Homo sapiens: one gene and its partners. The protein of the gene in region 2 purifies or fractionates together with the protein of the main gene of each other region. This does not show direct contact. Each region holds a gene or a part of one and is shown on either strand. Other genes may lie near its edges.

Region 1 (4,211 bases), about 61 Mb from region 2:
GTGCTGCAGCCACAAGCGTACTGCGCTTTAGCCTCTATCTAGTTCAAGAACCACTTCCAGAGGATATGAGTGAGGCTTACAGGCGTGTGCAGGTAATTCTCCCTGCTCAACTGAGATTACCATCATTAGCTCTGGTCCATAAAGGGAAAACTAAGACACAAAAGCCACATTGATGTTCTAGGCCACACAGCCAATTGCAGTGACTAGAAGAAAGAAGCCTCCCCGGGCGGCGAAGGTTGCAGTGAGCTGAGATCGCGCCACTGCACTCCAGCCTGGGCCACAGAGGGAGACTCCGTCTCAATTTAAAAAAAAAAAAAAAAAAAAAAAAAGGAGCCTCTGAGGGGCCCTCTGGGACTGCAGTAGGTCACACATGCTCCCTGCTTATTAGCATAGAACGCCCCGGTGATTCATGCAATGGAATGTTTCAGCCAAGGATGTCACCTAATAGAGGATATGTTGATACAGCTTTATCTGAGAAGTTACATAATCGTCCTAGTGTGGAAATGCCATAAAGGAATTTCTGGCTTGAATAAAAGAGGTGTGTATCCCCTGGGAAGTACTCCACAAAGGGTATGAGGAGATTTTCAGTGAGAAGCTGACTACCCCAGACTGGGCAAGTGACTTGTTAAAAACAGGGCTCAATGGAGGCTCTCTGAGGACAGTGACTGCGCCCACTTTGATTTGGTAAGGCTTTGACTCCTGCTCGAGAGAGTCCAGGGACCCCTAGACCTGCCTGTCCTTCCACAGGGAAGAGCGACCTTTCTGTATCTAGCCTCCTGGGATAGAAAGGTCCCTACCTTGAGTCCTCTCTGCTTCGTTCTTTCAGGTCACACATTTATTTCTGCAAGCCTTCAGACCTTCCATTCTCTTTCTGCCCTAGAGAGCAGAATGAATCCTTCCCCCGATTTTGTTGGAATTCTCTGAAAGAAATCCTGCCAAGTCTCCCACTCTGGAATACCACCCCCAGCACCCAATCTTCCCTCGACCTCGCCTCCCATCGCCCCACCAGCGCCCAGGACGTGGCAGGAGGAAGGAGGCTGGAGGGAGGGGCGCGGGTGGCACGAGCACCTGTCACCTGACCGGCTCGGGCCCTCACTTCTCCAGCCCCGGCCCTGCCCACCCTCTGGCCGGTGAGAGCCGACAGGGCCCCCGCCCTCCCGGACCCGGACAGGCCCGTCCCTCCCGCCCCGGCCTCCGCCACCGTCCAATGGCCGAGGGGCAGGGCCCGCTGAGCAAGCCGCGGCAGCCCCGCCGGGTCCCCGCCCTGTTCCCGGTTCCCGAGCCGGGCCCCGGAGGCCTTTAAATGCTGCCCAGGGCCGACGCGGCACGGCCCTCGCCACTTTTCTTGGTCGGGCAGCGGCAGCGGCAGCGGCAGCAAGCAGCCCCGTCGGCCCGGGTCCGGGGCCGTTCTGGGCCGCGGCAAGCACCTTCGCCCTCCCAGCTCGCGCTGCCTCCCTCCCCTCCCCTCCTCCCAGGCTCTGCCTGCCAGGTCGGCGCCGGGCCCCGGGCGCGCGCGCGCGCGCCCCCTCGTGTGTGCGCGCGCCCGCCGCCAGCTCGGACCCGCGCCCCCGCCCCCGCCCCGCGCAGGACAGCCCCGGGATCCCCGCCCGCGCGCCGCGTCCCACGTACCCCGCCGCGCCGGGCAAGAAGATGGCGGGATCAGTGGCCGACAGCGATGCCGTGGTGGTGAGTGTGGCAGGGCGCGCGCGAGGCGCCCCTCCCCGCCGTCCCGCACTCCGCCGCCGCCTGCTCCAGCAGTGCTGGGGTGCTGAGCAGCCGCAGGCCCGGCCGGCGCCCGGCGCGTGGGAAGGCGCCCGGTACCTGTTAGCAGCCGCTGGCTGCGCGCGGCCGGTGTTAGGGGCTGGAGAGGCTCCCGGGCTGCGGGGCTCTGGGCTGGGGAGGGAGTTTGGGGAGGATGGCGGGTAGGGACGCCCGACAGCCCCCTCTGTGCCGTGCAACCGCCAGCCAGGTGTGCGCGTGGGTGAGTGTGTCCGGGGCGCGCGCCCCGCCACCGCCCCCGACGTACCGGGGATTCCCCCTTGGAAATGGGTCGGCGCCCGGGGCTCCCGAGAGAAGTTGAGCACGGCCGCTGCACTTCAGTCACGTCCCGAAGGACAGGCCTGGCCCACCGCGCTTCCAGAAGCGTTTACGGTTGGAGAGGGGCCTGCCCTCCTCCGGCGTGGGGCTCTGGCTCTTCGGTGGACCTCGACCTTGATTTTGATCTGGATCTGAAGGGTCTGCGGATCTTCAGAGGCTTAACTACCGGGTGGAAAGGATGGGTTTTGTTCGGGGGTGATGAGATTATCTAAGAGACGGTGAAGAGGCATCATCTGCAGACACTGTGTGCATGTGGAAGGCTGCTGGATTCCACCACATCTGTGTGGGTTCTTCCTCCAGCCCCCCAAAAAAGAGCCCATGGAAAGCCAATCTGTGTACTTCTATTTTTAGAAACTAGATGATGGCCATTTAAACAACTCTTTGAGCTCTCCAGTTCAAGCGGACGTGTACTTCCCACGACTGGTAAATGATTTTGCTCTGTGTCTCTGCCTGTACCTTCCTCCTTTCTCATTGCTTTTTAAAATTTTATTCATTTGTTTATTGCATTTTCCAGTGGGTCAGGCCTTCAGGGTCTGAGGTCTTGGCTTTTCCCTAACAGGCTGTAAAATTCATTTTTCTTCTCCCACCCTTTTCAGATAGTTCCATTTTGTGGGCACATTAAAGGTGGCATGAGACCAGGCAAGAAGGTGTTAGTGATGGGCATCGTAGACCTCAACCCAGAGAGGTAAGGCAGAGTCTTTGTCAGGACAGAACTATCAGGCTGTGGCTGAGCCCTGCCCACTTCTGTTGTGGTTTAGCACTCCTCTTCCTCTCCTTGTGGACAGTGTTGCTAGTTGCCAGTGCCAAGAAAGTACCATGTTCCCATGAAACGAATATGTATGAATCCCAGCCATCATTTCTCCAGACAGCTATTTATATCAGAGATTATAAATATAGGCCCACATTTTCTCTTTGACCCTTAGGGAGGCCAGAGGATTTTTTTTTTTTTTTTTAATGGTTTTGAAACATGGTGCCAGGAGCAAGAACTATCAAGATGAATAAGAACCCAACTTAACATTATTTCCCCTGGTCAATTTCTGTGGCTGTTTTTGAGAATTCCGAAGTGGAATTCTCTAATTTTAGTCATTTTCAACACCAAAGTTTTCACCAGAGCTTGCTTTAGGTAACAAAATAAGCTGGTTTGACTTACTTCTCCATAATCTAACCTCTCTTGAAGAGTAGTGGCCTCTTAAAAATGGACAAACCCAGAGGAGGAAGAAGAAATATAAGCACTTGGGTCATTTTGAAATGTTTTTATATCCAACCCTTAATCAGTGGGATGATTTTCTTTTCAGCTTTGCAATCAGCTTGACCTGTGGGGACTCAGAAGACCCTCCTGCCGATGTGGCAATCGAACTCAAAGCTGTGTTCACAGATCGGCAGCTACTCAGAAATTCTTGTATATCTGGGGAGAGGGGTGAAGAACAGTCAGCAATCCCTTACTTTCCATTCATTCCAGACCAGCCATTCAGGGTGAGTACCTCGAGTGCCTCGGCTCCAGCCACTGGCAGGCTGATAATGTTCGACTTACCTAGTGTGTGCCAAGAACACTTGAAGCAGCCAGAATTTCTGCATGTCCAGGAAATTTGTCACCCAATGGTGAAAAAAAAAGATCAAAAGAGCTCTGTTTGCTGATATAAATTAACACTTGCCATAGTATCTTCTTAGTTCTATTCAGGTCATACATTTAAATAGACCCATATTTACATGTCCAAATTGTTAAGAATAAGTAACTTTTCTATGTAGTACCCAACATATAGTAGATACCTACCCCCAAATATCTGATTGATTAATCAATACTAAGTACCCACTTATTAAATATTAATATTAATAAGGTTGAGAGCTAATAAGTAGCTCTTTTATTTGTATGACATTTTAAAGAATATGATGATGATCATTTCATTTTCTCTTGTTCCCTTTGCTAATGAGGCCATGTTCGTGTCCTTGTTTCCCCCTCTGGATTAATTAGCCTCAGTCTATTTCATGGTTACAGGCTGTGTGGCTGACAAATTCCTTCCCTTGGGGCTGGATGAATAAAGATTTGCTCCCCACTATCTTCTGGGCAGGAAGCACAATCCAAACTTTTCATCCAATCAAGCAGCATTAGCAGCCCC
Region 2 (3,651 bases):
AAGTCCAAGATTAAGGTGCCAGCAGATTTAGTGTCTGATGAGGATCCTGTCCTCATAGACGGCCATTTCCTTGCTCTGTCCTCATGTGGTGGAAGGGGCAAACTGCTCTCTTACATCTCTCTTGCTCTTTTTTTTTTTTTTTTTTTTTTTTGAGATGGAGCCTCGCTCTGTCACCCAGGCTGGTAGCGCAGTCTTGGCTCACTGCAACCTCTGCCTCCTGGATTCAAGTGATTCTCCTGCCTCAGCCTCCCGAGTAGCTGGGATCACAGGCGTGGACCACCATGCCTGGCTAATTTTTGTATTTTTAGTAGAGATGGGGTTTCACCATGTTGGACAGGCTGGTCTTGAACCCCTGACCTCAGGTGATCTGCCCACCTTGGCCTCCCAAAGTTCTGGGATTATAGGTGTGAGCCACAGTGCCCAGCTCCATCTCTCTTACAAGGCCACTAATCCTATAAATGAGGGCTTGCCCTCATGACTTAATCACATCCTAAAGGTCCCACCCCTTAATACTATCACATTTGTGTTAAGTTTCAACATTCGTATATTTAAACTTATGACACGTGTCATATAATGTGTCATATTACATATTATGTGTCATAATATGGACACATTCAGACCATAGCAAATAGTACTGTGCATATCATGCAGTGGATAGGCTAAGTTTTAGAGTCAACTTTGTAGAAAATAACGTATTGATGACTAGTACTTTAATATGTTCTGGAGTATCGGGGGAACCCACCCCCAATATTTCAACATAGGTTCCATTTTCCATAAGTGTCGGCCAGCTGAGAAATAAAGAGAGACAGTATAAAGAGAGGAATTTTACAGCTGGGCCGCCAGGGGTGACATCACATATCGGTAGGACCGTGATGCCCGCCTGAGTCTCAGACCAGCAAGTTTTTATTAAGGGTTTCAAAAGGGGAGGGGGTGTAAGAACAGGGAGTAGGTACAAATATCACAGGCTTCAAAGGGCAAAAAGCAGAACTACTAATAAGGGTCTAACAAAGATCACATGCTTCTGAGGGAACAGGACAAAGGGCAAAAGCAGAACCACTGATAAGGGTCCAACAAAGATCACAGGGCAAAGGGCAAAAGCAGAACCACTGATAAAGATCTATGTTCAGTGCTGCACATATTGTCTTGATAAACATCTTAAATAACAGAAAACAGGGTTCGAGAGCAGAGAACTGGTCTGACCACAAATTTACCAGGGTGGAGTTTTTCCCCACCTTAGTAAGCCTGAGGGTACTGCAGAAGACCAGGGCGTATCTCAGTCCTTATCTCAACCGCATAAGACAGACATTCCCAGAGCAGCTGTTTATAGACCTCCCCCCAGAAATGCATTCCTTCCCCAGAGTATTAATATTAATATTCCTTCCTAGGAAAAGAATTTAGTGATACCTTCTCTACTTGCACGCCCATTTATAGGCTCTCTGCAAGAAGAAAAATATGGGTGTTTTTGCCTGACCCTGCAGGCAGTCAAACCTTATGGTTGTCTTCCCTTGTTCCCTAAAAATCGCTGTTATTTTATTTTTTAAGGTGTACTGATTTCATATTGTTCAAACACACATGTTTTACAATCAATTTGTACAGTTAACACAATTATCACAGTGGTCCTGAGGTGACATACATCCTCAGCTTACGAAGATAACAGGATTAAGAGATTAAAGACAGGCATAATAAATTATAAAAGTATTATTTGAGAACTGATAGATGTCCGTGAAATCTTCAAAACTTATGTTCCTCTGCCATGGCTCCAGCCGGTCCCTCCATTCGGGGTCCCTGACTTCCTGCAACACTGGAGTTTGTTGTTCAGTAAGTAGTGATGATATAATGTGCAGTTTATTGCAAAACATAAAGTGTGCTAGATTCACTGCCAGTAGTTTTAAATAAGAGTTCAGATGAATTCTGCCTGGAGCTTCATCAGGGAAGTGCTTCGTCAGGAAGGAACAGTAAAACTGAACCTTAATAGAGATAGGATTGTGATAAATGAAAATGTTGAATGGGAATTTTAGGCATAGAAAGCTGTCATGAGCAAGGTTGTGGGGATGTGAAATATCAAATATTTTTAAGATAGCCGATCATCCTATTTGGTTTAGAATGTAGAGTTCTTTAAAAAGTAGGAGATGGGAACAGATAGAAGTAGAAAAGTCAGCTGGGGCCAGATGATAGAAGGTTTCTCATTCCAGTTTAATTAACTTGAGTTTTATTTGCAAGCTGTGAGAGCATACAATGTTTTGGCTCATGGAAACAAACTGACCAAAGAGATGGCATTGAGGATCAATGAGACTCATGAGTGGGATGGTGGCAGAGAAACAGGGCACAGTGAGGGACCTGTGGAGTGGACAGAAAGGCCTGAGGTGGTGAGACTACCATCTCAAAATGGGAAAAAGAATCCCCTGGGATGGACTGTTGCAGAGAAGGGAGGCAGAAATCAAACAGAACTCCATTGTATGTATAGCTGGTGTTTTGGAGAATGGAAAATCCATTAAATGGCTAGAGGAGATGAAGAGAGTTAGTTGAGGGTTGAAAAAATAACAAATGATAAATTTGGAGTATAAAATCATATTGGAGATCCAGAAAGAGAATGTTTCTACATCTCCTTGTTAATCTGAGCTCTTGTTTTTGGTGGGTTAACTCTTTTAGCTGGATGCTGACAAATATGAGAATGATCCAGAATTAGAAAAGATCCGAAGAGAGAGGAACTACTCCTGGATGGACATCATAACCATATGCAAAGATAAACTACCAAATTATGAAGAAAAGGTAAGGGAGCCCTGGATTACCTGGAAAAGAAGTATCATTATATTCACTACTAATAGACGCAATATTTTCTTTCTTTTTTCTTTTAATGTCTGTATGAGGCCATTCTTGCTTTGCTATAAATAAATACCTGAAACTGTGTAATTTATAAGAAAAGAGATTTAATTGGCCCACAGTTCTGCAGGCTCTACAGGAAGCATGTGCTTCCTGTCACCACCATCTGCTTCTGGGGAGGCCTCAGGAAGCTTACATGGCAGAAGGCAAAGAGGGAGCAGGCTTCTCACATAACAGGAGTGGGAATGAAAGAGAGAGCAAGGTGCCACACTGTTTTAAATGACCAGATCTCACAAGAAGTTACTCACTGTAGTGAGGATAGCACCAAGAAGATAGTGCTAAGCTATTCATGAGAAATCCACCCTCATGATCCAGTCACCTCCCACCAGGTCCCACTTTCAATACTGGGGATTACATTTCAATATGAAATTTGGGTGGAGACACAAATCTAAACTGTATTATTCTGCCCCGGCCCCTCCCAAATCTCATGCCCTTCTTGAATTTCAAAATACAATAATCTCTTCCCAATAGTCCCCCAAAGTCTTAACTTCCTCTAGCATTAACTTAAAAGTCCCAAGTTCAAGTCCAAAGTCTCATCTGATACTCATCTCCTTTTACCTATGAGCCTGCAAAATCAAAACAAGTTAGTTACTCCCAAGATACAAAGCGGGTAAAGGCATTAGGTAAATATTCTCATTCCAAAAGGGGGAAATTGGTCAAAAGAAAGGAGCTACAGGACCCATGAAAGTTCAAAACTCAGCAGGGCAGCCACTAAATCTTAAAGCTCCAAAATAATACCCTTTGACTCCATGTCCCACATCTAGGGCACAC
Region 3 (3,440 bases), on a different chromosome or scaffold from region 2:
TGTCTATTTTTTTAAAAAAGTAAAAAATAGAAATTATCTCACTACTTAAATCCCATTTTTTTCACTTCATATGAAAGAACATATTGATAGTATATTCTATATTATTTCATAGATCTGTCTGAAAGAGATTGGGAACAAAAATATCTAATTGAGATATTCTTTAATTTTTTACATAGCAGCTTTATTTTTTTTATTCTGTAGTATCAGCGAAATCAGTCATGTTTATACCTTGAATATAAATATCAGGAATCATGCAATTATTTCTACTATGTATTTAGTAGTATCTTATATTTGTATAACATTATTACATTTTGCAAATTAGTATCACAACTGCTAAGTAGATGTTTCTGAGTATTAGAAAAATCAGTGTTATTACCTGCAGGATATTAAAAAACATTTGAAAAAGAGAAAAAGAAAAATCAGTGTTTAGAAATGTTGATAGTTATTGAATCTTTGAATTGAATTTTAAAAATCCATTCTAGTAATCAGAGTATACTTTTTTTATAGAACAAGGTGGCAGGTGGGGAGCCCTTTACCCTTCTGGTGAAGTTAAACCATAGAAGTTTACAATTTGCCTTTCACAAACATTAGCAGTCCGGGCATGGTGGCTGAAGCCTGTGATCCCAGCATGTTGGGAGGCCGAGTGGGAGGATTGCCTGAGCCTAGGAGTTTAAACCAGCCTGGGCACCATGGTGAGACCCCATCTCTATTATTTAAAATGTTTCTTAAATAAAAAAAACACAAACATTAGCAACTAGTTGGCTAGCCATAATTCCTCCCTTGTTTCGATTGCCAGTTAGAAGCAATTTTTATTTCACTGGTTATTTGCAAGAGAAGGGGTAAAAAAACAGCATCAGAGTGCAACACTGAAGTGAGCTTACTTTAATTTGTAAGTGAAGCTGTTGCTGAACATGACCACTATCGTTGCTGAAATATAAAATTATACTCACTGATTGTAATGGTTGAAATTTTCCTGAATAATCATTAGCCAAAGATCAACTCTCTAATGGTGCTAATGGCAATCTAGCTAATGTGCAAATTTAGGAAGTCTTCAGTACTAAGTACATAATTTTCAAATAATATTTTTTAATTGTCTACTTTGGATGTTAGCTATGTCTTGTGAGTATAAATTCCAATTTTAAGCACTATTTTGATGCAAAAAAATGAATAAAAAATTTAATTTATGATATGTTTGTAATATCTTACCTCCAGACAAAATAATATTAATAGTCTATCATTTAACAAATATGTATTGAACACCTACCCTTCTCTCTGGAGTGTACACTTCATGTGGGCAAGGGCCTTGTTCACGACTGTAGCACTAGTGCCTTTAACTGCTAGCAAAGTAGCCACTCGGATGATTATACCAAACACTTTACTAAAGCTGGGGATCTGTCTAGTGGGGAAGACAAACAATAAATATATAATATGTCAGGTGGTATTAAATGCTATGAAAAGAAAGGAGTAGATGGACTGTAAAGGAGGATGCTATTTTTTTGTGGCCATCCCGCACTGAGACAGGATGCATTCCACACTCAAAATTTGGTTCACATGTCCAGACTGATAGCCAAGTTCAGTGGCTCACGCCTGTAATCCTAGTACTTAGGGAGACCAAGGCAGGAGGATCACTTGAGGCCAGGAGTTCAAGGCCAGCCTGGGCAACAGAGAGAGACCCCCATCTCTGCAAAAAAAGAAAAAAAATTTTTTAATTATCTGGGCATGGTTGTGCACACCTGTTGTCCCAGCTGCTCAGGAGGCTGAGGCACGAGAATCACTTGAGCCCAGAAGTTGGAGGCTACAGTGAGCTATGATTGTTTCATTGCACTGTAGCCTGGGCAACACAGTGAGACCCTGTCTCAAAAAGAAAAAAAAAATGACTGATGAAGCCACACACACACCAACAGAGTATGAAAGGGTTGTTACTCACATAATGAAGCTTTCTGGGGAAAGCAGGGCAGCTCCTAAGCAGGATTTGACAACAGGGAAGGAGACTGACTTGGAGTTTTTTGGTGGTTAGGGAGTAGGGCCAGAGTGATGTTTCTTGCATGTGGTTTGAATTTCCCACTGGTATCAAAGAAGGAAACACCCAGGCTTGCTTGCTTTATTTTTTTAAAGAGATGGTGTCTCACTATGTTGCCCAGGCTGGGCTCAAGTCATCTTCCTGCCTCGGCCTCCCAAAGTGCTGGGATTACAGGCATGGGCCACCATGTCTGGCGAGCACCCAGGCTTTCTTAGCTTGCCAGAGGTGTAGGGCATAAGGGGACGAGGGGTGGGATAAGGCTTAAAAGCCACCAGCAGTCAAACATAAATTAAGTCAGATTCTTAATTACAGATTTCAGATCTGATTTCAGATCAGAGCTTATTTCAGGTCAGATTCCAGGTGTAGAGATCATCTGAAGCAGTCCTGGGCCTCTTCACACTACAGATACCAACACTGCCTTTACTCTTCCATTAGTGTCCTCCAAAATGGGGTGCATGGACAGCAGGTACACATGACCTTCCAAGGGGTGTGGGAATATTAGAACATCTATTTATATATTTTATTTCGTCCTTTTAAGTTTCTGTGGTTTTGTGTACATTTCTTACGTTAGGGATTTCAGTTCAAAATTGTATTGCTGATAGACACAATTCAAAAAGCTTGGAGACCAGGTACATTCACACCATCTAATAGAGATGGGGGAAAAGATCAAAATGCTTTTCTTTTTAAATTTTTTCTTAGTTTTCTTTCTTTATAGAGACAGAGTTTCGCCGTGTTGGCCAGGCTGTTCTCGAACTCCTGGCCTCAAGTGATCTGCCCGTCTCAGCCTCTCAAATTGCTGGGATTACAGGCATGAGGCACTGCACCTCACCCAAAGTGCTCTTCTTACTCTTACATTCACTCAGTATAACACAGAAAGCTTCTGTGACCAGATGCATGGGGGTTTTTCCCACACACCAAGCAATTCTCCAGCAGACATCAGCTGGGGGTCCTATAATTTAATTCAATTCTAACACTATTTACTTGGAGATAGCGTCAGATCCCACAGTTTAATGGTTCAATCCTCCAAGACTGCCTCCCACTTCCGATGCCAATCACAAGCTTCAGGTTGTGACCTGTACTTTTGACCAACCCACTGTAAATCGGGGTCTCTATGCCTACCTCTTCAGGTTTGATTAATTTGCTTAGAGCAGATCACTGAACCCAGGGAAACACTTTACTTATATTTTCCAGTTTATTAATAAAGGATATAATAAAGTATACAGATGAACAGCCAGATGGAAGAGATGCATATGGAAAGGCCAGCAGAAGTCCAGAGCTTCCACACCGTTTCTGGGTGCCCCACCTTCTAGGCATGTCCACCTGTTCAGCAATTTGGAAGCTATCCAAACCCTTTTCTTTTGGACTTTGGCTTTGTTTTTGTTTTTGAGACAGGTTCTCACTCTGTCACCCAGGCTGGAGT

The links.
Region 1: the proteins of ADI1 (region 2) and LGALSL purify together in Homo sapiens (affinity purification with mass spectrometry; one large-scale study listed by BioGRID and IntAct). This does not show direct contact.
Region 3: the proteins of ADI1 (region 2) and C11orf54 fractionate together in Homo sapiens (co-fractionation; one large-scale study listed by BioGRID). This does not show direct contact.

What each region holds. Positions count from the first base shown.
Region 1 is NC_000002.12:64,452,896-64,457,106, forward strand, and holds the start of LGALSL (galectin-related protein), read left to right. Parts: upstream 1-1,266; 5' UTR 1,267-1,650; coding exon 1,651-1,686; exon of another isoform or gene 1,687-1,983; intron 1,984-2,448; coding exon 2,449-2,520; intron 2,521-2,693; coding exon 2,694-2,782; intron 2,783-3,392; coding exon 3,393-3,570; intron 3,571-4,211. UniProt on the Homo sapiens protein: Does not bind lactose, and may not bind carbohydrates.
Region 2 is NC_000002.12:3,512,975-3,516,625, reverse strand, and holds part of ADI1 (acireductone dioxygenase), read left to right. Parts: exon of another isoform or gene 1-1,716; coding exon of another isoform or gene 1,717-1,818; intron 1,819-2,649; coding exon 2,650-2,769; intron 2,770-3,651. UniProt on the Homo sapiens protein: Catalyzes 2 different reactions between oxygen and the acireductone 1,2-dihydroxy-3-keto-5-methylthiopentene (DHK-MTPene) depending upon the metal bound in the active site.
Region 3 is NC_000011.10:93,761,898-93,765,337, forward strand, and holds the end of C11orf54 (ester hydrolase C11orf54), read left to right. Parts: 3' UTR 1-2,852; downstream 2,853-3,440. UniProt on the Homo sapiens protein: Exhibits ester hydrolase activity on the substrate p-nitrophenyl acetate, in vitro. Regulates DNA damage and repair by regulating HIF1A degradation via chaperone-mediated autophagy (CMA).